Homo sapiens: one gene and its partners. The protein of the gene in region 2 purifies or fractionates together with the protein of the main gene of each other region. This does not show direct contact. Each region holds a gene or a part of one and is shown on either strand. Other genes may lie near its edges.

Region 1 (8,148 bases), on a different chromosome or scaffold from region 2:
TGCTTTGGGTAATGTTTTTTGGTTGCACATAATAGAAACTGGCTCTGGCTAGCTTAAGGGAAAAAAGTTAAGTGGAAGAATATTGGAATATTCAATATAACATATTGGAAGAATATTCAGGTATCTCACAGAATCTGAGACTCAGGAAAAAAAGGGTTGGGGTCACCTCTAACCTCAGAAATAGGGGTTCATGTCTGTCTCCCTATGGTAAGGAAGCTGAAGTGATGTCACCATAAGACTTTTCATAAGAGGCCCACTTGGGGTCAGGTCTTCACCTGTGGGTCAGTCAGTCAAGGTTAGAGGGGCAGAATGCTATGCTTTAGCCACTTGTTTGTAGGTACTCACACCTGTATTTTGTGATTAATTTCCAGAGAAAGGGAAATTATTATAAACTGGAGGCTATACCAGCAAGCACTATATGGGGTACTTTACAAGATTTATTTTTTTAATAGCCTATAAAAATCACTCTTTCTACCTCACAAATGAGAAAACTGAGACTCAAATTAGTTAGGCAGCTTGTCTAACTAACTAGTTAGGCAGCTTGTCTAAGGATCTACAATTAAAATTTAGCAGGGCTAGAAGGCCAAGCAGGTCTATAAGGAAGGCTAGTCTTGTTCTTAAAATATTCGAGTGATAAAACGACTTAGGATAGAAAATTTCAACTTGAGAAAGAAAAATTCTAAAAAAAAATAAAATATATTTTTTAAAGAAATTTAAAAAAAAACAAAAAGTAACAACCAAATAAGTTTGGGAGCTCTTTTTATTACACTGAGAAATCTCAGAAACGTACAAAGCCCATGAAAGTAGATGCATTTCAGAAAATAAGATAAAACATTTGCATACATACATATTAATGACATTTTAGTTTTGAATTAAAAATATTCATGATTTTGCATTGAAGCATCCTGCCTGTGAATTAAGTACATTCTGAAATACTGGGAAAAGATTTCATATATCCTGTACTTGAACCTAAATTCCTATAAATGGCTGAGTTATATTCTCTTTCTAGAGATTAAGTTCACAATTTGATTTGTAGACTAATGGTTTTATTGATTCAAAGTATCTTTAAAGAGCAGAAATAGGAAACAAGCATACACCACACACACCCCTTTAGTTTAAGTGATATATCAGATCAAAGTTGAATTAATATAATAATCTTTAGTGCTTTTAATTGTATTGTTTGTTTTCAGTAGACCAATGAAAATACATAGATCCAACTGCAGAAGAGGTTAGGTAATGCCGGAATGATTCTCTATCATATCGGTGTTTTATTTCCAATTATACAGATAAATAAGTGATGTTGAAATCCATGCTATTTCTATCCTCAAAATAAGATAAATGTATGGTTACATTCTAGCATCTCATCAAGAGTCATCATGAAACAATAATATATTTACTACTTTTGCAAAATAATATATAATAGACTCCCACAGGCTATAAAGTTTACTTAATTAATTTTGGTAATGTGGCACTTTACAATGGCTTTTGGGTCATATCATACTCTGTTGCTGCTACTACTAATAATAATAAAATAACAGTAAATGTAAAGAAGAAACCAAAAGAAAATAAATTAGATCACTTGATAGTTCTAAATATTGTTTTGGTTTATCCTTGAACTGGAAATCAATTCTACATGATTTGGAAAGAAAACAAACACATCTTTATAATTCAGAGTGTGTATTTTGAAGGTGTAATATGATTTATCCAATGCCAGTGTGGGTTTGTCATGTTCTTTTTATTCAATGTCAACTGGTTCCGTAGCTATTAAAGCACTTAACTGTTTCTGTGCACAGGAGAGGAACAGTTCCAAACTGGACAGGCTTCTTTGGCGGATGACTTGATCGAGCTGTTTAATTTTTTTAAAGAGAGAGAGAAAGAGAAAAAAAAATACTGAGTTGAAGGATAAAGAATATTATGTCTCTGAAGCCCACTAGAAAAAACTTTCCAGATGAGACAATTTAGGAAATCAAATAGTACTTTCAACTGAATGACAGTAAAGTCACTCTTTCTGGCCTAAATCATCTAAGATGAGATGATAATCATTATAGTTTTATAACTGATGTTGTTACTCAGTTATTAGAGAAATATCATACATTTGATCAGAATGATTTCAGAAAACATAAAATAGTATTAAAATGCCAGTTCTTAGTGTATATACGCAACCAAACATCCACAAATATATTACAGATACAAGTAACAAAATAAGTACATAGCACAGAAACACAGCATAATCACATCATACACAGGGTTTAGTGGAACAAATTATAAGGGAGGAGATAAACAATTTGCTGAAATTAGAGAAAGTTTTGGGGAAAAGTATGCTTTAAAAAACATTTGAGGCCAGGTGCAGAGGTTCACACCTGTAATCCCAGCACTTTGGGAGGCTGAGGTGGGCGAATCATTTGAGGTCAGGAGTTTGCGACCAGCCTGGCCAACATGGTGAAACACCATCTCTACTAAATATATAAAAAATTAGCTGCGCATGGTGGTGCACACCTGTAATCTCAGCTACTTAGGAGGTTGAGGCAAAAGAATTTATTGAACCCAGGAGACAGAGGTTGCAGTGAGCCAAGATTGCGCCACTGCACTCCAGCCTGGGTGACAGAGTGAGACTCTGTTTTAAAAAAATAAAACAACACACAAAATATTTGATACTGTTGAAACTTTTTTTGTTCTTGTCCCTTGGCTAAGGTAGAGATGTTTTATTAGGATGTTTTAATATTTCAATAGCAAACTCATATGGTAAACGAAACAAGAGGGTTAGTAAGGGAAATCATTTGGATTATATATAATAAAGAACTCTCTGGATGGTAAACATTATTGAATATAAGAAGAAAAGCTTCAAACTTTTTGGCCCTAAAAAATTTGCCCATAGGGTAAAAATAACAAAACTAGGCAAACACATTCCCTATAGGTTACAGAACAATGGAGGAATTAAAAGACAAATAAATTCCATTTCATAATATACTTGTCATACTTATGTAAAAGTTGTCATTCTTCTCACAAGCCCCTGCATCCCCCACAAAGGCAAACCTGAACAATAATTCTCATTAAAGTATACTTCCATAATCTACTATACTCAAAATGGCTGAAAAATTGGATGACTAAAATATTGAAATATTCTAAGAATTAAACAAACAGAATCACTATATTTAGCAAAATGCTCCTGTAAAATCATTGAACTATACTGAATCCCTTCAATTCCAATATTCGGAGATTCTATTATATATACAGAAGTAAGATTTCTGCTTATCATTTTTCCTCACAGTTTTTTTTCCTTCTTCCTCTACTGGATGATACCTTCAGGTGAATACATACCTTATGCTTATAAGACTATTAAACAAAAGAGATCTTAGAATGTAAGACCCAGGTACGCAGAAATCTTGTCTGTCTTGCTAACTACTTTATCCCTAGCATCTAGAGGGGGTCTGGCACATGTTAGACAAGCAATAAATATTTGCTGAGATTGAGTGAATCAAGATACATAACCCCAATCAAACAAGGCAATCTACTGGAAAATGACAGATGTACTTTTAATGCTAAGAACCAAAGCATGCTAACCTAATCTAAAAGATACATGGGAGATTAAAGTCATAGTTTTAAAAGTTTCATTTTAATATATGTAAAACAGATTGAAATCTAAGTATTTTCAGCTTCTAAAACTATTTTGCACTTGGTCTAAATTAAACAGTACAGAAGAATATACCAATACTCAGTTCCAGTCCATTCTCCAGTGATTTCTGTCTACTTTTGGATGTTTTTAAGCATTTAAAGATGGGTTTTTAAAAATATGTGGTCCACATCTTATAATCCTTATAATTCTTAAGTTTGAGAGGGTCCACACAATCACTTTATTTCATTGCCATTACTGGAAGTTTTCCCTATCTCATTTTAAAAAATTGCTTAACTGTATTTCATAATTTATTTAGCTACTTTCCCATTGACAGACATGTAAGTTTATTCTAACTTTTTTGTTGTTTTTCAAGCAATAAAATTTACAACCTGAGTGCACACCCTTCAAAAGATGTTCAAGGTACTGAAATCTGTCACATCTGCATATTGTAAATTGTGATACATATTGCCAAATTTCTTCCCAGAGAGTATACTAAGTTATCAGTCCCAACTGCAGTGTTATAGAGGATCAGTGTCTCTTGTTTTTTTTTCCTTTTAAACCGTTGCATAGTTTTCATTTTATAGTTATAATATATGTAACAGATATTTTAATATTCTAAAGCATTATATTCACAGACATTAAGATTGTTCATAATATTTGGCTATTATAATTAAGGCTGTAATGAACATCCTTCAACACAGACCTCTGTATACACGTGCTAGTATAGCTTGTGGAAATTGTATGAGCCAAAGAATATGTAGTTGGCAATGCTACCTCCAATTATAAATCAGCTTTCCATATATGCAGGAACCTGTCTTTAGGCTCTCCATCCTGTTCCCTTGAACAATTCACCTATCTCTACACAAATGTAATGCTATTTTAATTACTACAGCTTTATAATAAACCTTAATATAACATATATTGCCAATATAAAATATTTCAGAAGAATATAAATTAGTGGGCATTTGTAAGAAAACTGAGTTTAAGAAGGAAGTGACCAGACTACAGATAGTCTCATAACTCTTTTATCATAGGCACAAAATATAAGCAGAACTCAGCGGTATATTATTTTGAGACATATAAGTAGGCAAAAACCCATTTCTTTTTAAGGTAAGTAAACAATGCAATAAAAACTGAACTGAGGATAGTTGTATTTGGAGGATGAATCTGGCAGGATGAGATACGTAATTCAGTTTGGAGGTGGCTTCATGGGTGTTTGTTTTACTATTATGCTTCATAACTTGTGTACATATAACATATGTGCTAGCTTTAACAATTCAAAATCCTTCACAAATCGCCCAGAACAATCAGGAGATACATTAAAAACAAATATGACTTAATATCTTAGAATTTTTAGAAGCTAGATAAATGAGAAACTTTTCTCCTTTTGAGGGAATATAGTACAATTTCACAATGTGTAACAAGCATTCAACCTCTGTTGCTAAGTAACAATAATCTGAATTTGTGCATTCAAAAGGAGTATTTCTGTAATTTTTTAAGAGGATATATATATAAGGACAAAAAAAGTTTGATAGATTTCTGTTTAAACACACCACACGCTTCTCTTGCTTGTGTTAGATGTCACCAAGGAATTACTGACTATAAGATGGTAGGCATGAAGGTTTTGGTTTTAGGCAGCTGCCAAGGCTCACTTCACATCTTTACCACTCCCTCCCCAGAGCACTCTGAAAGTAAGAATCCTTTAAATAAACAGGAGCACAATACTTTAAGAAGCAACAAGGCGAACCGATACTGTATGAGGAGGAAAACAGAGATTGGGCCATCACAAAGCTGAGCTTCCACTTTTGTGGGTCCTTCTTGGGCATAGTACATAGATCATGGCTGTGGGATGGAACACATACAACCTTTCTCTTATAAGGATGTTGAATTCCTCTCTTTGAAACAAATACATCAAACTGATGTTCTTGGCAAATTCCTGAATTTCAACAGTTACTGTTTTATTAGGCATGACCTTCTTATCCTTTATTGAGGCGAGAAGAATTTTGGCAAAATATTCACCTTTTTTGCTCCTTAAGGTATGGGACTTAGTTCTGTATTTGTGGCTTTCATTTCAAAGTGAATCAAAGATTTGTATTCTGTGACATAGTAATGAAAAATATTATGTCCAGAGTAGTGGTGGCAAATATTTTTTTGATATGGGGTTAAAAATCTCTTCATAATAGAGTAGCTCTAACCGATTTGTTTTCTCTTCCATTTTCTGTTGCTTTAATTTCTATTCAGCTCTTACACATATCTGAAAAATCTGGAAATTCTGAAGTTTCTGAAATAGACAACTAGGCTTCAGTTTGCTGGTATAACTGCTGAAAGCCTTTTAGAAGCATACTACTTACTAAAATTTTTAATTTTATTAAGCTTGTGGGGGGAAATAGCATGTCTTCTTAATAATTTCATGTATTAGATTTACCCTTTCATGAGTGTTTCATGCCATTGCAAAAGTAAAAGAAAAATAAAACATCTCTTGACCTTAGCTTTTTATTTGCCAGTCATTAAAATGCAATATGATGGTGAATTTACATTGGTCTAAAGTGCAACATTCAAAGTCAATTACAAACACATCTGGCTTATTTTAATTGGACTGTTTATTAAGAAGACTGTTCACATCCAAAAAGATATAATTCATTGTTTTGAAATATATATATGTGTGTATGTGTATGTGTGTGTGTGTGTCAAATACACATAGTACTAATTGCACTTTCAATGTTTTGAGCTTCTACCAACAAAATACACTAAGAAATGTGAACATGTTACATCTACCTTTATCAATGTTACTTTTCCAACTTACACTCCTACATATTTTAAATTAATGCTTAAAAATGACTTCATTTTTCCAAAGAGCTAGGATGGCTATCCAGCAAATCCACTCATGGGTAAAGTGACTAGAGAAGACCACTTAGAGAAGGTGGTAATTAAGAGACTTGAAAAGAGACAAGAAGGGAGCTATCTAAAAACATGGGGAAAGAAATTCTCAAGGTAGCTGGAAACACAAGGAAAAAACTCCAAAAGGGGGGTGCAGACTTGGTTTGATGGAGAACTGGTAAGAAATCCATTAAGATTGGAGCAAAATTACCAAGGAGGAGACTGGTAGGGGAGGAGATCAGAGAAGTAGATGGAGGCCAGAGCATAAAGGGCCCTAAAGGTTTGCAGTTTGATGGGAAGACATTGGAGAGTTTTCAGCAGGAGTATGACCATGCTTTGTTTGAAAAATATCGTACAAATTATTACGTGGAAAACAGACTGTAGCGGGACAAGAGTGGAAGAAGAAAAGCCAGCTAGGAGACTTTCAGTCTGGAAAAGATATAAATTTGACCAGAATATTGGCAATGGTGGCTTAAGAACAGTTCAGGTTTAGGATTTTAAGACAGGACCAACTTGAGTTGCTGATGGATTGGAAGTATAGATGAAAGGAAAAGAGAAATAAAAGGCGATTCTTTGAATAATAGTGTCCTATCCTGAGATATGATAGACTGGAGCTGGAGTGAGTTGGCCAGAGGAAAACTGTTTTGTTTCAGACATGATAAATTTGTCTAATCTCATCAGACATGTTGGAGATGTCAGATATAGGGGTCTGCAGTTCAGGGGAGATATCAGGCCTTGAAATAAAAACGTGGACGTCATCTCCATATAGAAGGCATTTAAAGCACAGATAAAAATATTTAGGGAATGAAAGTGGATAAAAGAGAAAAGGTTACAGGACTAAGTCCTGGGACACTCGGGGATGTCCAAGGAAGAGAATACAGTCATGGGTTCTTAGTTTCTGTTTCTGATTGGGCCAGTAAAGTCCCTTCCCCATCGCTCTTTTCTGCTTATCACTAGAAACAGAAACTAAAAACCACGGCTTCAAGCTGCTAAAAACCTAAAGCAAAACAAAACAGAACAAAAACAACAAAATAAGGCGGGTTGCACAAGCTTGCTAGCACATGATCTTGTAAGAGAACAGTGGGATATTCGATTCAACAGATAATTATTGTAATGGGTTGAATTGTGTCCCCCAAAAAGATATGTTCAAGTCCTACCCCCACACTTGTGAATGTGAGCTTATTTGGAAATAGGGTTTTTGCTGATGTAATTAAGATGTAAACTGAGATGGGCTCTTACTGGATTAGGGTAGGGCTTCAATCCAATCACTAGTGTCTTTACACGAAGAGAAACAGAGACACAGATACAAAGGAGAAGTCTATGTGAAGATGGAGGCCGAATCACTAGAAGCTAAGACAGAGGCATGGAACAGACTTCCTTAGAGCCTTTGAGAGCATGGCCCTGATGACATCTTGATTTGGGGCTTCTGGCCTACAGAATTGTGAGAAAATAAATTTATCTTGTTTCAAGCCCCTCAGTTTGTTGTAAATTGCCACAGTAGCCCTAGGAAACAAACAGTTATTTTCCAGATTGTTAAGGTCCTCATATATCAGAGTAGTGTTTCTTACAACGTGTTCCACAAAATGCCATTTCTGTACAGCATGTGTCCTGCTTATTAAAAATAAAAAAAATACCTTTAAGTCAAGTAAGTTTGGGAA
Region 2 (7,919 bases):
TCAGAAAGAGACAAACTTAAAAAGAGGGTAACAAGGAGGGGAGCAAATTATGTACATAACCAGATGATTCGCAAAGACGGCAACAGAGATGGCCAGCAAAACAAACTAGATATATACTTGTCTATTAGATTTATCAACATTTTTTGCCTTTTTCATTAAAAGCATTTGTAAAAGGATATAGGAAAAGAGGAACTCTCATATACTCCTGGCAGGGATGTAAATTGGTACAACCCTTTTGAAGGACAATCTGACAAAAGCAATCGTAAGTTACAAGTCAACATCTATGAATGTATATGAAAATATTTATATACATACATCACCACCATAAAAGCATTTTCTATACATACTGTTTATAATTAGAAAATTGGAAACAAATGATTAAAAGGGGGCTGATTAAATTAAGGTTCATCTATATAACAGGATTATGCAGCTATTAAAAAGGACGTGGTAACTCTATAGACATTCATAGGAAAATAAATTTTAAAATACTAAGATCCTGAATGATATATATATCATGAGCTATTATACATAACAAGATCCCACTTGTGTTATAAAAAATTATGTTTAGTCATTCAAAGGGTCTGGTATGATAGACCCAAAATGTTAATAGAGTCGAGATTTTTATTTTTTATAGGTTTTTGAAATACCTGAATTTTCACAATAAGTACTTTGCACATTAAAAATCTTAGCTGGGCATGGTGGCTCACGCTTGTAATCCCAGCACTCTGGGAGGCCAAGGTAGGCAGATCACCTGAGGTCAGGAGTTCGAGACCAGTCTGGCCAACATGGTGAAACCCCGTCTCTACTAAAAATACAAAAATTAGCCAGGCTTGGTTGGGGGTGCCTGTAATTCCAGATACTCGGGAAGCTGAGACAGGAGAATCGCTTGAACCCAGGAGGGGGAAGTTGCAGTGAGCTGAGATCACGACGCTGCACTCCAGCCTGGGCAACAAAGAGCAAAACTCCGTCTCAAAAATAAATAAAGAAAAAATCTTTACATGTCCAAAGATACGGCTGTTCAACTAAAAAATATATATGTATAAAACTTAACATGTTAATAGTGAACACACAAAACAGTAAGATAGATAAAATTATTCCTTCAAAGCTCACTTAACCTCTGGATCTACACTGTCCAAAAAGACGGTCTAATGAGACAATTGAGCACTTGATAGGTGAGTGGTTCTAACTGAGATATGTTCTCAGTATAAAACATACAATAGGATCTTCCTATACAACATTAATTAAAAAACAAACTATTGTAGTTAAAAAGGAAAAAATTAGAGATACTATGTAAAAAAGAGCCAAAATACCTTGTATTTTATTTGAAAGACATATCTCCATAAGATTACACAACCTCGTGTAGGATAAAGGACTTTGCTTTGCTTGGAATTTAAACAATTTAGGCTCTTAAATGTCCTAAAATTCTCTGTAGCTAAGAAATTTTTATATTGGTTCCTAGGAACTAGGAATCCTTAAATTAGGCCCTACATTTGCTTACAAGTTTATTTTCCTTGGCATAAAATTTTTTAGTTTTTACATTACTGGTTATATTTGATCAGGGTTCTATTTAAATAGGCACAAGTTCAAGCAAAGATCAGATTCTGCTTTTAGCAGTGTGTACTCAGACAGGAAGTATTAAAAGGCAGGCAGAAAATCCTTTATAAAATTACTACTTTCAATGCATTTTCCCACGTTGAAATGCTTCTGCAGTTTATAATTAGGCAAATTACTTTAATTATAATCAATAATGCTGTTCAAATTACTATAAGAATTATACAGATATTTATACCAAGAGACAATATACTAGAAACCAAGACTACGTGACCATTACCTCTACTCTGTCAGTGTTATTTGTGAGAAATTGCACAAATTTTGCAAAAAGTGTTAGTATCCTACTACAGTAGGATATAATATAGAAGGAAATAATTTCATAAAGCCTGTCTTTGGTACTAGTGCTCAGTTACTTTCATTAACTAAAAAAGGGGCTACTCTTCAAATTCCCTTCTCTAAAAAGAATGTACTATATCAAAAGGGGGTAAACACTACTACGTATACATTCTGCACTTAGAAATCCCTATATGTTGATTTTATCATTCTCTTATTCAATAAATATTGTTTCTACAATGTGTAAGGCATTACTGTACTAAAGCATTATAAGGAATATAAGTTAAAAACACATACAAATCTTGCCAATCAACAGCTTATAGTGTAATAGGGGAGAGAAGCTGGCCCATCTATATTCTCCCTCAACTAGCAAGTGGATGAAATATCAGGGTCAATAGTTATAAGCCACAAAAGCTGACAGCTTAATTAAGAGAAGTTTTGAAATATGTATTTCATGACCAATAATTACAACTGTAACTTTTCTATTTAAAGAAGGAGAAAATTTGAATTTCTTCTCTAGCTCAACATACACTTCTATAATTCCATTACATGAACCAGAGTAAAGGGTAAGATGGAAATGAAGAATATTTTCTTACCCTTTTGTGGTTCTATATTGGACACTTAAAAATCATACACAACCTAATCAAAAGATGTAATTCTTTAAAAAGGTACGAGACCAAAATTCAGAAAATCTAGACTATAACAAAATTTCTCAATTTACATTATCTTAATATGCAATTAATTTTCACCAGTAAAATACTATAGTATGGGTACAAATGCATTGATTAGTTCTAATTACAAAAATGGCTAATATATAATACTGTGTAGTGTTTATGATACATCAGATAATGTTCTAAGTGCTCTGAAAATATAAACTTTTAATCTTTTATACGACCCTATAAAATAGGTGTTATTCTCACTGGAGAGATGAGAAAACAGGGGTTCAGAGATGTGAAGTAATTTGACCAAAGGTCACAAAGCTGAAGAATATGAAATCCGGGATTCTGATTCAGGCAGTCTTATTCCAGAATCATGCTCTTAACCACTATGGAATACTGCCTCTACTGTAACTATTATACCCAAAACCCTTAATCCTAAGTCATCAAAAGGAAGAGCCTCTATTTTACACAATGAAGAGGCATTTCTAAGAATAGAAATTTAGGGACGAGCACAGTGGCTTACTCCTTTAATATCAGCACTTTGAGAGGCTGATATGGGAGGTTCACTTGAAGTCAGGAGTTCAAGGTCAGCTTGGGCAACATAGTGAAACACAGTCTCTACAAAATATTTAAAAATTAGCTGGGTGTGGTGGCATGCATCTATAGTCTCAGCTACTTGGGAGACAGAGGGAGGAGGCTTGCTCGAGCCCAGGAGTTCGTGGCTATAGTGAGCTATGATCATGCCACTGCACTCCAGCCTGGACAACAGAGCAAGACCCTGTCTCTAAAAAAGAAAAGAAATTTGGAAATGGTTTATTTTGTATTAACAATTTATAATTTACACTGAAATTTATTATGATAAAACTTTTCCCTGTGTTAAAAAGCTATTAACTTTATGAAAAATTTCTTTTAGGTAAGGTTGATTATATATACCCACACACATACACAGGTTAAAAGTTAGTTTCATGTGACATAATAACTAGCATTTTGAGCACTACCTGTTTGCCCAGCACTGTTCTAAGTGCTCTACATGTATTATTGTTAAATTATCATAACACTATGAATTATGTACTATAATTACCCCAGCTTTACAGATGAGGAGACTAATCCATGGGGAGGTTAAGTAACTTGTCCAAGGCCAGACAGCTAGAGCCGGCTTTTGGACCCACACCACAGTCTGACTCCAGCACCCATATTCTTAACAATTTCACCATATTAATATGTCAAGATTAAGCAGTTTTAAAGGATGCTATTTTCTCACAAATTTCTTAATATGAACACTCAATAAGAATAATCACTAATATAAGCATTTAGTATTTTTTTAACACTAAGTTGGAAGCATAGTGGAACATTTATTTTTAGAAATATTATTAATTGGCTGGGCTCACGCTTGTAATCGGCTGGGCTCATGCCTGTAAATTTTGGGAGGCCAAGGTAAAAGAATTGCTTGAGCCCAGTATTTCCAGACCAGCATGGGCAATACATTAAGACATCATCTTTAAAAAAAAAATGTTATTAATCTCCTCTTTTTGTTAAATGTATATTATCAAAATTGTTACTAAGCTAACAAACTTCAGAAAAACTTATGATGGGCAAGCTGCTTGTGACATTGAAGGTATTTAAGATTCAATTCTAGTTTGGTCCTAGATGACCACATATCCATTGTTCCTTCAACGAGCACATGGTAAAGAGCCTAGAACACAGAGACACAGAACACAGTGGAGAAAAGGGAGTGAAATGTCTTTAATGACACTTACTATATATGGGATTTTGTGACAATATACAAGGATGGTTAAGACATATAAGGTGATGCAAAAAAACATATTAACAATTATAGTGACAAAAAATGAGGAGCATATAATTATACATTGATTTATACAGAGTACCAGAGGAACACAGCATTGAGAGCCGTAACACCACCTGAGGGAGTGGAGAAAGGCTTCAGAGAGAAAGTGTTTTTTGGAATGGATCACTGTTTCCAAAAGAACTAAAGTACAGTTTGAGAAATGCATACTTAATTCATTACTTTTTTCCCCTCAACTTTAATAATAAATTTACCCAACAAAAAAGTTTATTTTTGACTTGTAAATCTCTTAAAATCATAAAAAAGTAAAATTAGCTTTTAAAAACAGGTAGTCACCATAGCATTGAATGTGTAGTTTATAATACAGCAAAGTTAAATACAATTTCAAATTACCTATTAAGTTAGTTGCTCATTTCTTTGATTTCATTTAGCATTGATCTAACTCAATGTGGAAGAAGGTTACATTCGTGCAAGTTAACACGGCTTAATGATTAACTATGTTCACCTACCAACCTTACCTTTTCTGGGCAAATATTGGTATATATAGAGTTAAGAAGTCTAGGTCTGCTTCCAGAAGAAAACAGTTCCACGTTGCTTGAAATTGAAAATCAAGATAAAAATGTTCACAATTAAGCTCCTTCTTTTTATTGTTCCTCTAGTTATTTCCTCCAGAATTGATCAAGACAATTCATCATTTGATTCTCTATCTCCAGAGCCAAAATCAAGATTTGCTATGTTAGACGATGTAAAAATTTTAGCCAATGGCCTCCTTCAGTTGGGACATGGTCTTAAAGACTTTGTCCATAAGACGAAGGGCCAAATTAATGACATATTTCAAAAACTCAACATATTTGATCAGTCTTTTTATGATCTATCGCTGCAAACCAGTGAAATCAAAGAAGAAGAAAAGGAACTGAGAAGAACTACATATAAACTACAAGTCAAAAATGAAGAGGTAAAGAATATGTCACTTGAACTCAACTCAAAACTTGAAAGCCTCCTAGAAGAAAAAATTCTACTTCAACAAAAAGTGAAATATTTAGAAGAGCAACTAACTAACTTAATTCAAAATCAACCTGAAACTCCAGAACACCCAGAAGTAACTTCACTTAAAGTAAGTAGAAAATAAAGAGGGTTCATGTTTATGTTTTCAATGTGGATCTTTTAAAAAAAATATTTCTAAGGCATGCCATTTGAAATACTTTGTTGCATTGTTGAAATACTTTTTTTTCCAAGAAAAATAATCTCCAGAAAATAAAATTTCCTATTATAATTTCAAGTTAGTTTTTTGTTTCCCTAATGTTATATATGAAAACACTGAAAATTTGCATTTTATATGAAAATTACAAATCGGTTAAATTATACAATCTAGAACACTATGTCATTACACTATTGTAAATTACTGAAGGTAAGTAAAAAGTTAAAAAAAATTTAAAACTATTCTCCAGTGTTTAAAACAGATTAAATAATACAGTAAATGGAAAAGATTTATTCATATGAAAATATGCTGGGCTTTTTCTTTTAATTGAAGTTCAGAAAATCAAATTTTAGAGATAGTACAATTTAAATAAAATGTTAAGGACAAAAATATGTGCTATTTGAAAGAAGCATACAAGGGGAAGGAATTGCCAATATTCATTTTTCAAATCCATTATTAGTTTAAAAATTTAGATTATGATAGTGTTACAGGAAATTAATAGAAAAGAAAGAGGAAAGCAACTTATAACCAACCTACTCTCTATATCCAGACTTTTGTAGAAAAACAAGATAATAGCATCAAAGACCTTCTCCAGACCGTGGAAGACCAATATAAACAATTAAACCAACAGCATAGTCAAATAAAAGAAATAGAAAATCAGGTAAGTCAGTATTTTAATGGTATGTCCCATCTTTCACACAGGTCTGTAAAAACACTGAATCCTAAAATTATTTACAAGCTTTAACTGGATCATGAGTAAAATTATCACATCAGCATAACTGTTAAAATTGCAGGCTCTGAAGCTAATAAACTACCTGCATTTAAACCATGGCTCTAAAACTTTGTGTGACCTTGAATAAATTACTTCACCCCTTTATCTCTCAGTTTCCTCACATATACTACAAAGATAATAACAGAACTTATAGGATTATTGTAAGAAAAAAAATTAATTCATAGCAGCCAATGTCATCTTACTAAAATTCAAATTAGATCATGTTTCTCTTTGCTCAAAACCACACAATAGCTTTCCATTTCACTCATATTGGCTCTTTAGACCAAGATTACCCAACCCTTCGTCATCTCACTGACTTCACCTCCTCTACTCTAGTTATTCTGACCGCTTTACCAGTATTCAAACACATCAAACATACTGCCACCTCAAAGCCTTTGCCCTTGTTGTTTCCTCTAACTGGAACGCTCTTCTGCCCTGGTATCTACGTGGCCCACTCTCTGATTTCCCTTAGGGTCGTTATCAAACAAAAAATTCCCAATGAAGACTTACAAGGTCACTTAACCAAAAATCACAACCGCCTGGTCCCATCCCTGAAAACTTCTACTTCCTTAGCTACTTTTCTCCTGCACACTCACCTTTATTTAACATAACATAAATTTTAGTTATTTATCTCTTCTATTCCTGCACTAAAATGTAAGCTCTGTGAATACAGGGATTTTTTCCATTATCTTCATATTTTCCATTATTTGTATATACTCCAGAATATAGAATACTGTATGGCACACAGTAGGCATTTCTGTTGAATTAATAAATGTAATGTCATATTCACACAGAAGCGTGTGCTATGATTATTATTACTTGGATTACTAGAAATAGTGTGCCTCATAATTAAAGGTCAACATTCAACAATGTAATTAATCTACAATGTAAACATCTGGTGAAGTGACAGAGGGAAGCACTTGTTTAGAAAAAAGCTATGTCAGAATCCATGTATTCTAATATGCAGTACAATAGTTTAAAAATATTAATAATACTCTCAAACAGCTATTCAAGAGGATTCAAAAAACATAATATAAACTCAGAGAAACTGGTAAACAAAATCATTTTCAAGAGATATAAAACAAATATTATTACCAATTTCCACTAAACAAACATAATGTTAGTAGTGCTGCTAAAAGGTTTTTTATCAACTACTTTTGGTTTCCATACTTTCCTTCTTATGATGTTATTATTCTAAATTCTTTTCAATTATATCTTTTACTATGATTAAATGAACCTGCTCCCCAAAGCAAAATGTTACTATAGTAATATACATTGTGTCTAAAAATAAAAATGTGTGAAGAAACCAAAACAATGAATTTCTGAGTTGGAAGAAGAGTTAGATCATTTAACTTTCTCATATTTAAATTAAAAAAACAAAACTCTAAAAATTTAAGTAACTTTAAGATCACATAGTTACTTAGTAGAAAAGAGTAATACCCAGCAAGCAAACTTTACAATAGATCCTTTTAAATAAGGTCCTAGGAAATATCATTCATGCCAGCATCAAAAAACTAACACTAATAATGCAAGATATTATATATTCTGCTTTTCTTACTGTCAATGAGAAAAACTATCATTCAATAAATTGCAAACCCAACA
Region 3 (8,148 bases), on a different chromosome or scaffold from region 2:
CTCAGACCAGGCACTGAAATTGCTTCAATATTTCTTTATGTATATTTAATGTTTTCAATACACTAAAGATACCACACAGCCAATAAATAGTGGTATAATTTTGTGAACTGATTAGATTATGAATTTATATTTCAAAAAATTTTAAATTTAGTTCTCTATTGTCTGAGCTTGTTAGATTATTCCTAGTTTTGCTAGCCTCTACCTCCTGCATAATTTATTCATTTTAAAATAAATCTAGTTAATAAGATGATTGACTTATCTACTGTATTAAAAACTTAATGCATGGTGATTTGAATAATAAGTTTTTATAGACTAATAGCACTAACCATATCTAAAATTTACAAAACCCAAGTAGTCTGTAAAGTTTCTTCAATAATCTAAATTACTACTTCTAAAACTTTTATTTACAAAATTAAGATATCATTTAATAATGGCTATAATTAGGATACTATTTTAAGTAGCCAAATATTTTATTCAAGTTGGTTTGAAAAAGAAAGAAATTCATTATCTCACACAGCAGTAAATCCAGAAATATAGTAGGGAGTCAAGAACCCAATGATTCCATCAAGTACCCAAGGTTTTATATTTTTTCTGCCATTTTAAGGCATTTGTTTTGCCCTCAAGCTGAATCTCCTCGTGACAAAAGATGATCCCTGTAGCAATTTGAAGAAGCATGTATTCCAGATAGGACAAATATCAAAAGCCAACATGTGCTTTCTCATCCAATGTTCCCTTGCTAAGTGGAACTAAATCTTTTCTACCCATTCCCCTTAGTCCTCTCATTTCACCTGACATGTGACATATGACTAAAACTGGGACAAGGAACAATCACTGCCAAGGGGCATAGAAACACCAAGATTTTTAGCTGAACCTAATCTAAAATTCCCTTGAATTAGGAGTAGGATTGACTTCCCCTGAGTTATGTGGGAAAGAGTGGACATTTGAATAATACCAGGGAAAAGAAGAATAAGGAATAGATTTTAGTGGACTATCAATAATTTATGCCACAGTACAAGGAAGGTGATATAGCTCTCAAAAGTGAAAACATGCTTCTTACAAATGGAAATGCAAGAAACGGAAAGAAGAGTTAACTTCAGGTACAAAATCACACCTGGTTTAACCCAATGTCATTGTCATTAAAAGGGAACTTGGAGCCAAGTACAGTGCTCACACCTGTAATACCAGCACATTGGCAGGTCAAAGCCAGAGAATTGTTTAAGCCCAGGAGTTCTAGACAAGCCTGGGCAACACAGTGAGAACCTGTCTCTAGAAGGAATTGTAAAAATTTAAAAATTAGCCATGCATGGTGGCATGCACCTATAGTTTCAGCTACTTGGGAGGCTGAAGTGGGAGGATTACTTGAGTCCAGGAGTTTGAGGCTGCAGTGAGCTATGATTGCACCAGTGCACTCCGGGTTGGGTGACAGAGTGAGACCCTGTCTCTAAAATAAATAAATAAATAAACAGGAACCTGGACATTCAACAGGAGAAGGAAGCAAATAAGTGTCAGTGGTGCTTGATGCTTACCATTACAGAAAACACAAAGTGAAGCCAAAAGCCAGAAAGAGACTGAAAGACAGTTATTTCTTATTGTGATCTTGACAGTATTGTCAATTTTCAAGTACAAAACTATTACCTTAGACCCATCCCTGGAACTTCAAGGTGGTCCAGACCTACTAAACTGATTTATAAATGTGAAGCTCTATATATTAACTATTTCAAATTAACAAGTTTAAAGAGACTGCTCTTGTCACATACTTCAAAAATAAAGTTGAATCATTAGTTTCAAATAAATCAAACATCAATAATAAACTAATTTTAAAATAGATGTATCTCACAGAATGGTCAAGCCAAGCAAAAAGAAGGGAATATAGCGAACTAAATTATGTTATATATGTTTTAATTATAGGTCCCCTTCATAAGATAGTAATTTGTTGTACTTGTACATATTCTAAATTCGTTTTCCAAACTTCTTAGCACACATTTAAATTTTTTATCAACAATGATCAGTAAGTAATCCACACCATATAACCAAATATATAATCTTAAATAAGTCAATGATGCATAGAAAAATTATCAAGTTTCCATATGTTCAGAAAAAAATTATTTTTTCAATATTATTCATAAAAATTGTTAATACTGGCACAGTTACTTACTACCAAGTAGATAACTATTTAACACATCTGTTCTTTATATATGAAAAATAAACAAATATAAGACAAGATGCAGAGCCAAATCATAACTCCTCCCAATATAGTTAATGCTGTGATTAAAAATTTTTTTAATTTGCATGTTCTGAAATTAAATATAAATATGAAATCGAGAGCACAACCTACTCCTTGTGATTCCAATTACATGCTGATCAGGTCTGGAGAAATGGAAAAAAAGAAAGAAAAACAAGATGGTTGTTTTGCAAGATAATCCAGCTAAAATTATTCAGCTAAAACTATTAATCCAGCTAAAACTCCTTTATGTAATTACTAATGGTTAGTTCATGAACATGGAAACATAAAGGAGGAACATCTCTATAACTGTAAAATCCACAAGTTGTTCTCCTAAACCACATTCATGGCTTCATGCCTTCTTGCCTATCCCACCTGCTCTGACTGACACTGTCCCTTTTCAATGCCTGCCCAACTCATCCTCATCCTCTGTGACTTGGTCTAAGAATCACCTGCACACATTCTTTCCATACACTGCTTCCCTTCACACTGGTGAATACCCGCTTTCCCCACTCCTCCTTCCTCAACATCCTCTGCACTGTACCTCAGAATTATATAGAAATACCAACTTCTATTTAAGTTAATAAGAGGAGGTCTCTGTCACCTACTAATCACACAACTACAAAAAGAACAAGTGTTATTTGATAAGTATTTATTAAATTCAACTGTATCATATCAGAATCTCTTTATTTGCAGATGCACAGTTTAAACACAGTTATATTTCCCAGAATGAGAAGGGGGGAAAGACTTCAAATGTATATTAAGTGAATGGAAAATCACTGAATAAAGACAAAATCTCATTGAATAAGAAAGTCCCAAAGAAAGATTCATTACATTGTAGGATACAGTAAATTCCTCTTCAAAGAACCAATATGTTAGTATATTGAGCTTCCCTGTTCTTTGTTTTCCATTTGAAAGTTTAACTTCCTCGTTCTTTACATCTCCTTGTCCCTAGCTTTAGTAAACAACCCCCTCCTAGCCTCTATCACCTGCTCTGTCCTTAGTCATCCTTAGTCACCTGCTCCCTCCTTAGTCACCTGCTCTGTCCTTAGTCATCCTTAGTCACCTGCTCCCTCCTTAGTCACCTGCTCTGTCCTTAGTCATCCTTGGTCACCTGCTCTGTAACCGTCCTTCCCACCAAAGCTTCTCACCCCGCCACTCCAGCTCATACCCCTGCTGTCTTTAAAATAGCCAGTTGGAATTATCTTAGACTGTGCGGTCCAACCCTACCCAATAGGGGAAAAACAAGCAGTAGGGACTAGCTGCATTAATAGTAAGATCCCCTTCTCCTCCCTTGTCTGGTGTGCTCTTGCCATTGCTCCATCCGTGAGAGGCACCCTTTTATAGAAGTAAATTGCCTTGCTGAGCAAACTTTTGCCTGAGTGCTATATTCACTTGGCAGCACCGAGCATTTACTTCCAACAACATCAAGTCTAAAATGTTGTTCTCTAAAACCTCATCTGTACTACTCTAGAAAATTTTATTTTTCCAAATTGATCATGAATTTCCTAGTCTGCTTAATGTAATCAGCTAAACCTATGATAACTCAGATTTTACAAATTTAGTAGTTCTTCCTTTAAAATGACTAAAGACATTAGCAATATGAGACCTCTTACTGATTTACTGCTAAGAAGCTTAAAGGTTTTTCTCCTACATATCCAGTCATGGTGATGCATTAAAACAGAAAAAATAATTCATAAAAATTTAAAGCAATAGCCATTGTTACTCTAAAACAATGCTATTTTATAAATCTAAAATACCAATAGACTTTTGCCATTTCATATTGCATTTACGTAATTTCAAATAAAATTTGTTTACTCAAATGTGACTCCTTAAAAATTCTCTCAAACTATATTCTGAGATACTACAATCCATAAACACCCTCTAATTATATTTAATTAACATATTCAGCATAGAGATAAATTGCTTTGAAATTAATTCAGTTATGCAATTGTTCTTTCTAATCAGCCAAACTTTCTCTGTATTTATTTGCACTACTAGTAAAGTTCAGTGTTTATGTTATTGGACATCTTTATGACTATAATAACACACATCATCAAGGAAGTAAAAGGAGAGTTTGATCATCAACCAAAGTCCTTTATTACTACACAGTTCCTCAAAGCAGACAAAAATAAAATAAATTACAGAGCATAACATGTAGTTTGACCTTCAAAGATACTTTACAAAATACTGTTTCTTAAAACTCTCATTAGTACTTATAACCCTATGTTTTAATTCACCTAGGTTGAAATCTGGGTAAATGAACCTATTTGCTATTAAAATTTTACTTAAAACATGGTATCTCTTGATGGTTATAAATGGCTATGAAAAAAATTGAGAAGCTAAAATCACATTTATTCTCTTATTTCAATTTTTTATCCCAAATTTGCACGTTTGCTACCATACTACAAATGTTCTGTTTGATTTTTTTTGGCTAAAATTATATTTAAAATTGATATTATCTAATTTAAATACAAACCAAATGAGAACAATAGTTATCACCTCATGAAATATTATACAGCTATAAACAGGCAAATCATTAATGATTCAGTCAGTAGATTATGTATGCTCTGAAATGATTGTCTTTATTTCTATAAGAGGGTAGACTGAAGACTGAGCCCACAGTATTCAGTCTCCTCTCTTATAGAAATAAGGATAGCCATCCATGGTTCCCCCAGGAACTTCAAGGATCTTAAACTTTGCCTTTGTAGCTCTGGCAAAGTTTAAGATCCTTGATGTTCCTGGAGGACTGGTGGATGAAGTTTCAAGAAATGGATCAACTGTAACACCTAATATTAAGAAAAAGCTGTACCATACCAGGAAAACACTACATTTGTATAAAATTCTCACTTCACAATACCTGATAAACTTATCAGTAGTATCTAACTTCTAAGTAGTGAATTTACCTTCTTACAGTAGTTAACTGTACATGTGCTTGTGTTCTACTTAAGAAGAGTAGAAAGGGCTTCCATGAGTATGCCATCATTAGAGCCTACAACAAAGAATGTAGGTAGAAGATCTTGCCAACTATTTTTCTCTTCTTTCGGAGGTATAAATAGAAGTCTAAAAACACTTTTAGAATTTGGAAAAAAGAAAAAAAAAAGGATTTCTAGGATTTCTAGCAATACTTATCTGGGAAACATTTTTAATTAGTTGTTAAAATTGGGCTCAAAAATATCAATTAACTGAAGCTATTTTTCCCTACAGAAAAACTATAGCACAAATAGAGAAACATCAAAGAATATATATGTATCATAAGTATGCACACACAGAAAGGGAGAAAGAAATGGAGACAGAGAGAGAGACAGACAAAGAGAGAGAGAACGACAGAGACAGAGAGACAGAGAGAAAGTAGTCCCCCAAAATATGGAAGTTTCTAAGGTCTATTCTGAACTTCTTCATCAGGAGGTATATGATACAGCTGATGTATAGGTACATTTATATAATGTTAATAGCAAAAAACAAACATGAAATAAAGGCAGGTATTGATATCTAGATGCACTCTCTTAGTTGCATCCTAGAAAATACATACAAGGCTATTCAAAACTTCCTTTAAAAAGCCATATTAATCTTTGCAATTTAGCACAAAATATACTGAAAATCTTAATTTCTATATAAGTTAACTTACTTATTCATATTATGTGTGCAAATTAGGGCAGCCTTTTCAAAACTATTTTTAAGTATACTACACTGAAAGACAAAACTAATTTCAAATTCGCCATAACTATACCATTTCAATGTAAACAGAAAATTGACACTTACTATCCCACACAATATTTGAGTCAATTAACTGTCCTCTGATGACAATCATGCATGGTAAGCATCATTAGAGTGGCTGAAAACATTTCTTAGGCATAAAACAAACAAAAAACTCGCAAATAACAAGGGCCTGAAAACAGTATAAGCATTGTTTTCTAAGTCTTACTCTGGAACAATGACTTTTAGCCATTCTCTTTAAAAATAAAGGCCTGATTTCAATTTCATATCCCCAGTATTTGAAAGTGAAGCGATTTCTCCATTCAAAGTTATACCATTTTTTCCTCTTCCAATCTGAGTATATTTTATGCTCTTATGGGAAAAAGCTTAAGTTTCCTGATCTCTAAATGCATTAAGGCAAACAATATTAGATCCACCAGCCTCTAATACGTTTAGGGACCAGGGCTCATGGCAGTTATGCAGTTAGCTTCTGTAACTATCTTTGAATTCATTATTATACTGAAATAAAATAACTTTTTTTATTCTTTAGAGGTTTTAGAAAACAAATTGCAATATCGCGAATTGAATCACAAATACATCACTCTGCTAAGTAAAATTTAAATTAAAATCACCTACCATTCATCAATGGAAATAAGAATTTTAAGGATTTCTAATTTAAAATGAAAGGTAAAATTTGACATTTTATATTAAAATTACCCTAATATATCCTCAAACAGCCACTTGTTCAAGGATACCCATAGTGTAAGTTTCAACCCAACTACTATATCCCATATACACGTGCTTTTTACAGATTCACTATTAATTATAATATAAAGTCTAAAAATAAAAGCTATGACTAGGTATTTTAGCAAAAGACTTTATCCTTTAAACAATTTATCTATACTTATTCTGTTTTCTCTAATAAGTTGATCTGTTCACCCGAAAAAGAGTTAAGTTAAACATCCATGACTGTAGCACAGTACAATGAACCATAAAAATATGTAGTATATTTTACTAATTGACATGTCACACTAAAAAGTAAATATTTCACAATGATCATAATGAATCAACAATGAACAGGCTCATAAATTATAGACAGAAACATAGGCAATAAATGATATGTTGGAAAAATGTTTAAGAAGTAAAATAACATGCACAGAAATCACAGAGCTGAGAAGTTCGGTGCTGATTGGAATACAGGCCCGATGATGCATGATATGCATGCAACAAACATTGGCTGGATTTATTAATGAATGGCTCCAAAATCTATCCTCCAAATTCTTAAGGAAATTGTTGTGGCCATTAAGAAAAGAAAGTCTGTTTGTATGTCATAAATATATTTCAGCTTCTCAAGCATTATTTCTGAGAAGAGAGCCAAGTTCTGTGAATATACTTGGTAACTTCTCATAAAGGTAAAATTAAGCTGGACTTTAAAAATAACTGGTCTTGTGTATAAATATAAACTGAAATAAAAATAAATGAATGTGCTAATTGTTCTTTTCTGTTTGAGAAAATGACTCAGCCTTAACCATAACAAAATCTCCCTTATATCCTCAAAAATTAAAATGTATGATTAAATTAAAGCTATGATTAAAATGTAAAAGTGGTAATTTTTATAAATTAGATCCAGATATGTCATTATTACATGGGTATTCAACATAGAAGTATTCCTATTTTATCCCCATAAACTCAACTGAGTCAGCTGAGTCAGAAATCCTATGACCTTTATGTCGAAAAGCCTATTAACATTATTTCATCTCTTTAATTCTCACAATAATCTTGTAATTATGTAAAGGAAAGTTTCTTTACTTTGCAAGTGGAAAAACTGAAATCATAGTCAGGGAAAACATTTGGCTGAGGGTGATTCACAAAGTGAGTCTCAGAAAGCAGGCTAATATTCACAATCTCAAACTCTTAAATACAGAGGAAATATAAACCACATTAGTTTGTTTGTTTGTTTGTTTGTTTTAACCATTTAACCCCTAAGCCCACAATAGTAAACCTACAACCCACCTCTCTGAAGAAAAAAAAAAGAGAGATGAAACATACACAACTTTAATACACAAAGAAGAGTCTGAATTGCAGTTAAGGCTTTGAGTTCCTAGCTGGTTTGGAATTAGGAAGCAGTAAAGGGCAAATGTGTGAAATACTGAGATCATCTCACCTTTTACTTCTTTACATGAAAGAGCAAGATCTGTTTATCAGGATCACTTTTGATAAGCACAAAGAAG

What was found.
Region 1: the proteins of ANGPTL3 (region 2) and CCDC91 purify together in Homo sapiens (affinity purification with mass spectrometry; 2 studies listed by BioGRID and IntAct, with this or other methods). This does not show direct contact.
Region 3: the proteins of ANGPTL3 (region 2) and GULP1 purify together in Homo sapiens (affinity purification with mass spectrometry; 2 studies listed by BioGRID and IntAct, with this or other methods). This does not show direct contact.

The regions. Positions count from the first base shown.
Region 1 is NC_000012.12:28,542,761-28,550,908, reverse strand, and holds the end of CCDC91 (coiled-coil domain-containing protein 91), read right to left. Parts: intron 1,847-8,148; coding exon 1,736-1,846; 3' UTR 743-1,735; downstream 1-742. UniProt on the Homo sapiens protein: Involved in the regulation of membrane traffic through the trans-Golgi network (TGN). Functions in close cooperation with the GGAs in the sorting of hydrolases to lysosomes.
Region 2 is NC_000001.11:62,592,601-62,600,519, forward strand, and holds the start of ANGPTL3 (angiopoietin-related protein 3 preproprotein), read left to right. Parts: upstream 1-4,919; 5' UTR 4,920-4,966; coding exon 4,967-5,461; intron 5,462-6,095; coding exon 6,096-6,206; intron 6,207-7,919. UniProt on the Homo sapiens protein: Acts in part as a hepatokine that is involved in regulation of lipid and glucose metabolism. Proposed to play a role in the trafficking of energy substrates to either storage or oxidative tissues in response to food intake.
Region 3 is NC_000002.12:188,294,327-188,302,474, reverse strand, and holds part of GULP1 (PTB domain-containing engulfment adapter protein 1), read right to left. Parts: exon of another isoform or gene 8,082-8,148; intron 4,984-8,081; exon of another isoform or gene 4,887-4,983; intron 1-4,886. UniProt on the Homo sapiens protein: May function as an adapter protein. Required for efficient phagocytosis of apoptotic cells. Modulates cellular glycosphingolipid and cholesterol transport. May play a role in the internalization and endosomal trafficking of various LRP1 ligands, such as PSAP.